Regions from separate parts of the Homo sapiens genome. Here region 2 is linked to region 1. Evidence: fine-mapped expression QTL. A gene starts in region 1. The other region holds a variant in brackets. All regions are shown on one strand. Distances are from middle to middle.

The links. PIP is the estimated chance that this variant, and not a neighbour inherited with it, causes the effect. A credible set is the group of variants that fine-mapping cannot tell apart.
Region 2: its variant is the best candidate, but not a certain one, in a credible set for the expression of SPACA3 in tibial nerve (GTEx, PIP 0.52).

Annotation. Positions count from the first base shown.
Region 1 is chr17:32,989,318-32,994,695 of GRCh38, forward strand. SPACA3 (sperm acrosome associated 3) reads left to right here and starts at 2,530. Exons shown (of 5, transcript NM_173847.5): 1 at 2,530-2,655. The coding sequence starts at 2,622.
Region 2 is chr17:32,967,389-32,972,766 of GRCh38, forward strand. No RefSeq gene overlaps it. Among named protein-coding and RNA genes, the nearest start is that of SPACA3, 22 kb to the right of the region's middle. The variant A/C (reference allele first, on the strand shown) is at 3,080.

The sequences.
Region 1 (5,378 bases):
TTCCCCAGCCTCAGATGTTCCTTTATGGCAATGCAAAATGAGCTAACACACACAGATGAATGGATAAAGAAAATGTGGTATACACACAAAGTGGAATACTATTCAGGCTTAAAAAAGAAGAAATTTCTGACATATGCAACAATATGGATGAGATTTAAGGACAATATGCAAAGTGAAATATGCCAGTTACAGAAAAGGAAATAATTCTACTTTTATCAGGTACCTAGAATAGTCAAATTCATGGAATCAAAGAGAGGAATGGTGGTCACCAGGGGCTGGCAGGAGGAGAAAACAGGGAGTTACTAATCAATGAGCATAAAGATCCAGTCAGGTGGCTGGGTGTGGTGGCTCACGCCTGTAACCCCAGCACTTTGGGAGGCCAAGGCAGGTGGATCACCTGAGGTCAGGAGTTCGAGACCAGCCTGGCCAACATGGTGAAACCCTGTCTCTACTAAAAATACAAAGATTAGCCAGGCGTGGTGGTGCATGCCTGTAATCCCAGCTACTTGGGAGGCTGAGGCAGGAGAATAGCTTGAACGCAGGGGGCAGAGGTTGTAGTGAGCCGAGATCATGCCACTTCACTCTAGCCCTGGCAAAAGAGTGAAACTCCATCTCAAAAAACAAAAAACAAAAAACAAAAAAAAAAAAAGAAAAGAAAAAAAGAAAAAAAAGAAAATCCAGTCAGGCAAGATGAATGAGCTCAAGAGAGCTGCTGTACAGCAGTGTCCTCTACAGTCAACAATAATGGATTGCATATTAAATATATGTTAAGAGGGTAGATCTCCTACTAAGTGTTCTTACCTCAATAAAAAAATGAAAGAAAAAAATACTGGTGCTGATGCTGGGCCATCCCTCAATTTTAACTTGGTTGTCCTGGGGTGGGGCCCAGACAGATAGGGTGGACATGGTGCAACCAGACACTTTTATGGCTGTGCTCTGCACTTAGTAGTAATTACTATTATTTATTGAGCACCTGGGGTACTAAGCACTTTGTTGCTGTTTCATTGAGCCTTCCTAGTACCCTGTGAGGTTGGTGTTGTCATCCCCGCTTGAGAATCAAGGAATCAGAAAGTGAGGCTGTTTTCTCTAGGTCATCCACCTGGAAGTCACTAGCGCCTGTGTTCAGCCCTGGTCAGCCTGACCCCAAAGCCTATGCTCTAGCTGCTGTGCTGTGGGACTCAGGCTCCTGTGGGACACAGACGTGGGCACCACATGCCCTTTCCTTCCAATTCTCTGTCCTTTAAGTTTTAGGGTCAATAGGGTAACCTTTGCCCTGCACCTGTCCACACTGAATGGCCATCATCCAGGTGGAGAAGGGAGTGGCTTGTGGCTCAGCATTAAGGAAGAACTTTCTGGCACTCAAAGGAGCTTCATGGTGAGATGGGCAGCCTGGAAAAGCAGAGGGCAACCACCACCATCCCTAGGAACCCACCACCATCCCTGGGCACCTACCCCCATCCCTGCACATCCCTCACAATCCTTGGGCACACATCACCATCTCTGGGAATCTACCACTATCCTTGCACACTTACCACCGTACCTGCACACTGACCACCATCCTACACACTCACCTCTGCCTCTGCGCACCCACCGCCATTCCTGAACATCCACCACCATCCCTGGGCACCCAACACTACCATCCCTGCACATCCACCACTGTCTCTGAACACCCACCACCATCCCTGCACATGCACCACCATCCTGGGGCACCTGCTACCATCCTTGGGCACCCACTTCCATCCATGCACACCCATCACTGTGCCTGGGCACCCACCAACATCCCTGCACACCCACCACCATCCTGGGGCACCCACTGCCATCCCTGGGCACCCACTACTGTCCCTGCACACCCACCACTGTGCCTGGGCACCTACCACCATCACTGCATATCTGCCACCATCCCTGGGCACCCACTACCATCCTTGCACATCCACCACTGTTCTTGCACACCCACCACTGTCCCTGGGCACCCACCACAATGCCTGCATATCCACCACTATTTCTGGGCACCAACCACCATCCCTGCACATCTATCACCATCCCTGGGCACCCACCATCATCCCCGTGCACCCACTACCATCCCTGCACACACACCACCATCTCTGGGCACCCACTACCATCCTTGCACACGCACCACTGTCCTTGCACACCTGTTAACATCCCTGGGTACCCATCACCATCTCTGTACATCCATCACCATCCCTAGGTGTCTACCATTATCCCTGGATAATCATCTGAAAGATCTGTTGGGAGAGGAAGTGTCATCCCTCAGTGTAGTGTGTGTGTGTGTGTGTGTGTGTGTGTGTGTGTGCGCGCGCGCATGTGTGTATGTGTGTGTGTGTGTGGGGCAGAGATGTGCAAGGGGGCTGGGATTAGATATCCTGCTCTGCCTCTGGACCCTGAGTGGAAGGGCTCAGGTGGGCTAGTCAAAGCTCTGTGGTGGCGCTGTTTGTGGAAGATGAGCTCACAGAGCTGGAGTTCTAGAAGGCCCTCCGTTGGCCTGGAGCCTGCCTTCCCCATTGTTCTCTTAACACTGGGTGCCTGGGGCCCTGGCAAGGTTGTGGGGGACATCTTGAGCTGAAGCAGGGTTTTGAGCCACTGCTGCTGCTGCCATTGTCACCATGGTCTCAGCTCTGCGGGGAGCACCCCTGATCAGTGAGCCCCCTTTCCCTTCTTCCTGGGGCTGTTAACAGGGGCGCTGGGTTGGTCTGGCCAGAGACCAGGTGGAGAAAAACAAGGTGGTGGTTAGGGTGGGGTTATCCTGGCCTGGAAGAGTGACCAGCTGAGAGAGGAGAGAGAGAGAGAGAGAGAAACTCTGGAGCTGTTGTGAAATGCTCAGGATGGAATTCCTTTTAAGTCACTTTTCTACAAAAAAAAAAAAAAAAAAAAAATCAAAAACAGTCCATGTGTAGCAGTCAATTTAGTTTCCTCCTCTACAACTTAGGGATATTAACCCCACACCTTTCAATTGCTGAGAGGATTGGATGAGATTAAGTTGGAAAAGCTCTGGGAAAGGCCTGGCACAGTGTTCAAAGACTTGACAAACTCCACCAGGTTGGCTGCCTCCTCCTTCTCACTCCCCTCGCGGTGAGAAGAAGGTCTCATGTCCCTGTGGCCACGCCTTTTGTGGACTTGAGTTTCAGAAGCAGCCACAGAGCAGCTACTCCATGCCAGCAACTCTGCAGATAAATAAGACATGCAGATAAATAAGACCAGCCGCCGTTCTTCAGAAGTTAACTTTGTGGTGGGAAAGACTGACATCTATTCCAGCCTCGTGTGACAGAGGATGTGGAAGATCGGGTGTGTGAGAGTGTGGGGGGTGGTGGCATGCCAGGAGACTCTCACTGGGGAACACACCTCTGATAAGACCCTTCAAGTATGAGTCAGAGTTAACCATGTAGAGGAAAGGAGAGGGTGAATGTTCTAGAAAGCAAGGTCATTGTGAGAGAACAAGGTGGCACTGCTGAAACATAACGTGTGAATGAGGGAGTGGGCCGCAGGGCTGGGCTGTGAAGGGTCGTGAAGGGCCGTGTGGACCTCGAAGGGGCAGTTATGGTGGGAGCCATCCAAGGTGTCACAGGGCTGGGCTTTTCATTTAACAAATTTGTTCTGATGGATGTGTATAGAATAGCTTGGAAGAGTGGTTGAGACATGATACAAGAAGACCATGAAGGAAGCCAGGATGGAGGTGTGAACCTAGGAAAGGACGGTGCTCTCGGAGGGAAGGTGGAATCCACAGGACATTGGGACTGATTGGTTGGAACTGGGTGAAAGATGTCATGGGGAAGGAGTGAAGAATGACATTCATATTTCCAGTTTGGGTAAATGTGTGGCCCATCATGTTTTAAAGCACATAAGGAAAGTCACAAGGCAGAAGAAGGCATTGATGGAAACAGTGGTTCTGTTTAGATGTGCTGGGTTTGAGGTGCCTGCAGGGCATTCAAGTGGAAGTGTCCTGCCAGTAGCTGCCTCTGAGGTCTTGGGGAAGATGCCACAGGGGTTGCCAGCCTTCAGGCGGTGGCTAACAGCAGGGCTGCCCAGGGGGTTTCCTCAAAGTGGAAGAGAAGAGGGCTCAAGGCAGGAAGGCCTTAGAAAGCATATCAGCGTTTATGGCCTGGGCAGAAGTGAATTCCACGGAGGATAAGGAGGAGAGTCAGCCAGAGAGGGAGGAGGAAACCTGGGAGAAGGGAGCATCGTGGAAACCAGGAGAGGCAAGCCTTTCAACAGCGGGTGGCGGACGGCATGAGTACAGCTGAGAGCTCCCATGAGACAGAGTCGAAGGGGGCCTCCTTGGACCCGCAGAGCAGTTTCAGCGCGCGGTGATGGCAGGGAGGCCAATTCACCAGGTTGGAAAACAAGCGGGAGGGAGAAAGTGGCGATTTTCCCCAGGAGTTTGGGCGAGAAGAGGGGGAAAGAGACAAGGGAGTAGCAGTCAGCATGAGACTTGAGGGAAGGCATTTAGAAGATGGAGACTGAGAAAGTCTCTACGAGCAGGGGAAGGAGGAGCAGGAGGGGAACGGTGCTAGCGCGCCGGGAGAGGAGGGACAACGGATGGAGCAAGGCTTGGTGATGGGAAGGACAAATCTAGAGCTTAGAGGGAAGATGGGCCTGCATGAGATTGGAGGCCCCGTACCCAAACAATGACGGGGTGGAGATGAGGGCGAGGAGGCTACTGATGAGTTTGCAAGTGAGCAGGGCTAAGGCAGAAAGAGGAAGAAATTCCACAAGTGAGCACCTTGCTTTTCTTAGTGCAGCAGGAGACGAGATCATGTTCTGAGAGCCAAGGGGTGGGACAGCGTGGCGTGCTAAAGGACAATACTGAGGGTTTTCATTTCCTGTGAGGGAAATGGGAGAGAGAAGTCTGAGCAGAGACAAGCGCGAGTACCAGTGTTAGTTGTAGTTCATAACAGAAACAACAACTCACTTATTTTTAGTGCCAAGAGCTACGCTGTGCCCACGCCTTTTCTCATTTATTCTTCCAACAATCATATGAGGCAGGTGTTACTCACGTCCTCATTTTATAGAGGAAGAAACAAGCCTCAGGGAGGGCCCAAAATCAGAGATGGAGCAAGGAGCAGAGGGGGGCTTCCAACCCGAACCTTGCTGCAAAGCCATGACCTCAACCACTTTGTCATCCTCGGGGGCATTCAAGGTCCCGTGGAGGTTGGAGACCAGGGACACCAATTGGCACAAACAAGAGTTTGTACAACTCTTTCACTTTTTGACTCTGTGAAGGTGGAGAGCAGGTGTGGAGGCGCAGAGGTCAAGAGAAGCATGGGAAGGCTTGTCAGAGGTGGTGGGCAGTGGGATAGGAGCTCACAGAGGTGGGGAAATGCGGGTGAGGACAAGAAGCAGGGATGACCAGGGCAGGGGAGGGA
Region 2 (5,378 bases), 22 kb before region 1:
AAAGCTTATCCACCATGATCAAGTGGGCTTCATCCCTGGGATGCAAGGCTGGTTCAACATATGCAAATCAATAAATGTAATCCATCATATAAACAGAACCAAAGACAAAAACCATATGATTATCTCAATAGATGCAGAAAAGGCCTTTGACAAAATTCAACAGCGCTTCATGCTAAAAACTCTCAATAAACTCGGTATTGATGGGACGTATCTCAAAATAATAAGAACTATTTATGACAAACCCACAGCTAATATCATACTGAATGGGCAAAAACTGGAAGCATTCCCTTTGAAAACTGGCACAAGACAGGGATGCCCTCTCTCACCACTCCGATTCAACATAGTGTTGGAAGTTCTGGTCAGGGCAATCAGGCAGGAGAAAGAAATAAAGGGTATTCAATTAGGAAAAGAGGAAGTCAAATTGTCCCTGTTTGCAGATGACATGATTGTATATTTAGAAAACCCCATCGTCTCAGCCCAAAATCTCCTCAAGCTGATAAGCAATTTCAGCAAAGTCTCAGGATACAAAATCAATGTGCAAAAATCACAAGCATTCCTATACACCAATAAGAGACAAACAGAGAGCCAAATCATGAGTGAACTCCCATTCACAATTGCTTCAAAGAGAATAAAATACCTAGGAATCCAACTTACAAGGGATGAGAAGGATCTCTTCAAGGAGAGCTACAAACCACTGCTCAATGAAATAAAAGAGGACAAAAACAAATGGAAGAACATTCCATGCTCATGGATAGGAAGAATCAATATCATGAAAATGGCCATACTGCCCAAGGTAATTTATAGATTCAATGCCATCCCCATCAAGCTTCCAAGGACTTTCTTCAGAGAATTGGAAAAAAACTGCTTTAAAGTTCATATGGAACCAAAAAAGAGCCTGCATTGCCAAGACAATCCTAAGCCAAAAGAACAAAGCTGGAGGCATCATGCTACCTGACTTCAAACTATACCACAAGGCTACAGTAACCAAAACAGCATGGTACTGGTACCAAAACAGAGATATAGACCAACGGAACAGAGCAGAGCCCTCAGAAATAATACCACACATCTACAACCATCTGATCTTTGACAAACCTGACAAAAACAAGAAATGGGGAAAGGATTCCCTATTTAATAAATGGTGCTGGGAAAACTGGCTAGCCATACGTAGAAAGCTGAAACTGGATCCCTTCCTTACACCTTATACAAAAATTAATTCAAAATGGATTAAAGACTTAAGTGTTAGACCTGAAACCATAAAAACCCTAGAAGAAAACTTAGGCAATACCATTCAGGACATAGGGATGGGCAAGGACTTCATAACTAAAACACCAAAAGCAATGGCAACAAAAGCCAAAATAGACAAATGGGATCTAATTAAACTAAAGAGCTTCTGCACAACAAAAGAAACTACCATCAGAGTGAACAGGCAACCTACAGAATGGGAAAAAATGTTTACAATCTACCCATCTGACAAAGGGCTAATATCCAGAATCTACAAAGAACTTAAACAAATTTACAAGAAAAAATCAAACAACCCCAACAAAAAGTGGGTGAAGGATATGAACAGACACTTCTCAAAATAAGACATTTTTGCAGCCAACAGACACATGAAAAAATGCTCGTCATCACTGGTCATCAGAGAAATGCAAATCAAAACCACAATGAGATACCATTTCACACCAGTTAGAATGGTGATCATTAAAAAGTCAGGAAACAACAGGTGCTGGAGAGGATGTGGAGAAATAGGAACACTTTTACACTGTTGTTGGGACTGTAAACTAGTTCAACCATTGTGGAAGACTGTGGCGATTCCTCAAGGATCTTGAACTAGAAATACCAGTTGACCCAGCCATCCCATTACTGGGCATAGACTCAAAGGATTATAAATCATGCTGCTATAAAGACACATGCATACGTATGGTTATTGCAGCACTATTCACAATAGCAAAGACTTGGAACCAACCCAAATGTCCATCAATGATAGACTGGATTAAGCAAATGTGGTACATATACACCATGGAATACTATGCAGCCATAAAAAAGGATGAGTTCATGTCCTTTGTAAGGATATGGATGAAGCTGGAAACCATCATTCTCAGCAAACTATCGCAAGGACAGAAAACCAAACACCGCAGGTTCTCACTCATAGGTGGGAATTGAACAATGAGAACACTTGGACACAGGAAGGGGAACATCACACTCCAGGGCCTGTTGTGGGGTGTTGGGGGTGGGGGCGAAGGGATAGCATTAGGAGATATACCTAATGTAAATGACGAGTTAATGGGTGCAGCACACCAACATGGCACATGTATACATATGTAACAAACCTGCACGTTGTACACACGCACCCTACAACTTAAAGTATATATGTAAAAAAAAGAACAGTGTAAGAGGATATTGAAAACTCCCCTATCCACTCCACACAGCAGGCATCTAGCATGTATCCTCTTAGGGAAGTTCCCATGGGACAGGGAGAGACTGGCTTTGTAAATGCTCCTGTTACAGGTACTGAAGTTAGGAATTTCAAGAAGGAAATGAAACCACTCCTAGAAGATCCCCTCAGTTTAGCAGACCAGCTGTACCAAATCCTAGGACCCAGCTTTTACACCTGGGCTAAAATTATTCTATTATAAATATACTGTTCACAGGAGAAGAAAGGGGAATGATTAGGAGAGCAGTCATGACCATCTGGGACAGGCAACACTCTCCTGGGCAAGGGTTCTTGCCAGCCAAACAAAAATTCCCAAATGTCATTCCCAAATTGGATAATAAAGATCCCAGGGACTGGGCCCAAATGGAGGAATGAATAATTAGAAGAGATCAAAGAGTCCACTCCTAGGGCATAAAATGTCGTAAAGGCATTTGAGATTCAACAAGAAAAAGAGGAAACTCCCTCTGCATTCCTGCAGAGGCTCAGAGATCAGATGAGAAAATATTTTGGATTAAATCTGGAAGAACCAGTGGGCAAGGCCTTTTAAAGGTTAGCTTTGTGACTAAAAGCTGGCCTAGCAGGCCAGGGAGTGCAGCTGCAGGCGTGGGGGTGGCAGGAGCCGCAGAGCCAGAGCAGACAGCCGAGAAA[A/C]AGGTGGACAGTGTGAAAGAACCAGTGTGAGTAAACCCCCAATAAGAAACTAATGTCTGTATTATGCAAAAGGAGTCACTGGGGATCCAAGTCTCTGTATAATGCAATACTTAGGAATTATGGGTGTATAGGGATTTATACCCTCATTAAACAAGTATGTGGAAGTTGTGTAGCTTGTCAAAGGATAAACAAAAAGATAATGAGAAAACAGGCCACGGGAGGAAGACCTCCCAGATTAAGACAATTTCAAAGCATTGAAGTAGATACCACAGAAATGCCCTAAGTAGGAAGACTAAAGTATTTACTGGTGATCATAGATCACCTTCCTGGCTGGGTCTTTCCCCTTTCAACAGCCACCACCAGGAATGTGGTCAAAATAATATTAGAACAATTGTACCCTAGATTTGGCCTGGTGGAAAATACTGATTCAGACAATGGGAGCCACTTTTTCTCAAGGTTGTTAAGGGGAATTATGGAAGGTTTACAAATTAGATGGGATTATCACACCCTTTGGCATCCCCCTTCCTCTGGAAAGGTAGAAAGAATGAATCAAACACCCAAAAAGTGTATCATCAAACTAATCTTAGAAACTAAAATGCCTTGGACAAAATGTCTTCCAATAACACTCCTTAGGATTAAGACAGCCCCAAGAAAAGACTTGGGATTGTCTCCCTATGAGTTATTATATGGGCTCCCATATTTGGGCAGAGCTACAGATCTCCCTACTATGGAAACCAAGGATCAATTTTTTTTTGATCAATTCTTAAGATATTATATACTGGCCATATCCTCTACCCTGTTATCCCTTAGGTTAAAAGGACTTCTGACTCAAATTCTGCCTCTTGAGTTTGTGGTTTACCACTTCCAGCCTGGTGACTTGGTGCTGATTAAGACTTGGAAAGAAGACATGCTGCACCCAAGCTGGGAAGGTCCTTATCAAGTGCTCCTGAGCACTGAGACAGCTGTGCAAACAGCTGAATGGGGGTGAACTCAGTATACTTGAGTCAAGTAACTGGTAAAAGATACCCCAGAAGGGAGGGGAAAAAACCCGGTGAAAAGTGCATGGGTCACCTGAGGAACCCTTAAAGTTAACTCTGAGAAAAATCTAAAAAGAAAACATGAGCTGGTCCCATTTCTGGAAGTTAATATGGCTGGGATAGGCTACTATACAAGAAGCAGAAGGTCAAAATGGAAACTGGCAGGGGACTCCTCCCTATCCAATCAGGTTGGTAGTTAATATAACCCAGATGGTAGCACCCCAAACTATAAGATTTAATGCCTGCCAGGTCTTACCTTGTGGGAATTTGGAAAATTAGAGACAGCTCTCCCAGGTGAATAAATATCTTTGCCCTGAGTCAAATGCAGGTTACAGTAGGGCATCACCCTGCCCCAGCTGGGATGATGTATGGTGGACTACCCAATTTGAGGGTTGGGCAGTAAACATGGGGTGGGAAACTCTGAGCTGAAGACCTTTGAGGAATAAACTACCTCTGTCCAAGAGCTCCCCACCAAATAACTGCCAGAATTTAGAATGCAATCCTATACTCATCACCATTGACAATCCAGCTGTTCTAGACCAAGAACCAGAAGTAGCATCCTATGTACATAAGTTAGGGGCAGACATCACAGGGAAAGACCCCTAGGGTGGTTTGTTCTCAAACTAATCAATAACTCAACCTCCCATTTGCCTGGGACTACTGCAACCCCAGACCCTAACAAACACTTTAGTCCACCAAATAATGACCCTAAAAGGGTAAAAATAATTGAGGTAAAGTATTTAAGGCAAATCATAGAAATTGAGACAGTTTACAGGGATGTGAATGTCTGGGTCTAATGGGTCAAATTTTCGGTATAAGCCCTCAAGAAGAGTAATTGCTATGTGTGTGCTGCAGGACAACCTCAGGCAAAAGTGGCTCCGTTTCCCCTAGGATGGGATACCAGTCCTGAAGGAATGCGTTGTATGTTGGCTCTATACGAGGATAAGGATGCATGGGAAATGAGACTTCTAGGAGTCTGTCGTTACTCTTTCCTGCATTGCAGAGGTCAGATCCCACAGCAATCCCCTCATTCTCTATAGGGAATATGAACTACTCCTCTTGCCTCTCTAGGCAGGGGGCAGGTTCAATAAGCCCATGGGAGAACTCTCGACTTGTACCCAATTCCTAAACATCACTGGTGAGGCAAAGGCAATTACTCAGCTCTCCATATACCCCAGGCTGATGTCTGATGGTATTGTGGGAAAGGAATCTCCATAGCTTGTTACTGTCCAATTGGACCAGGACTTTGCTTTAGTCCGATT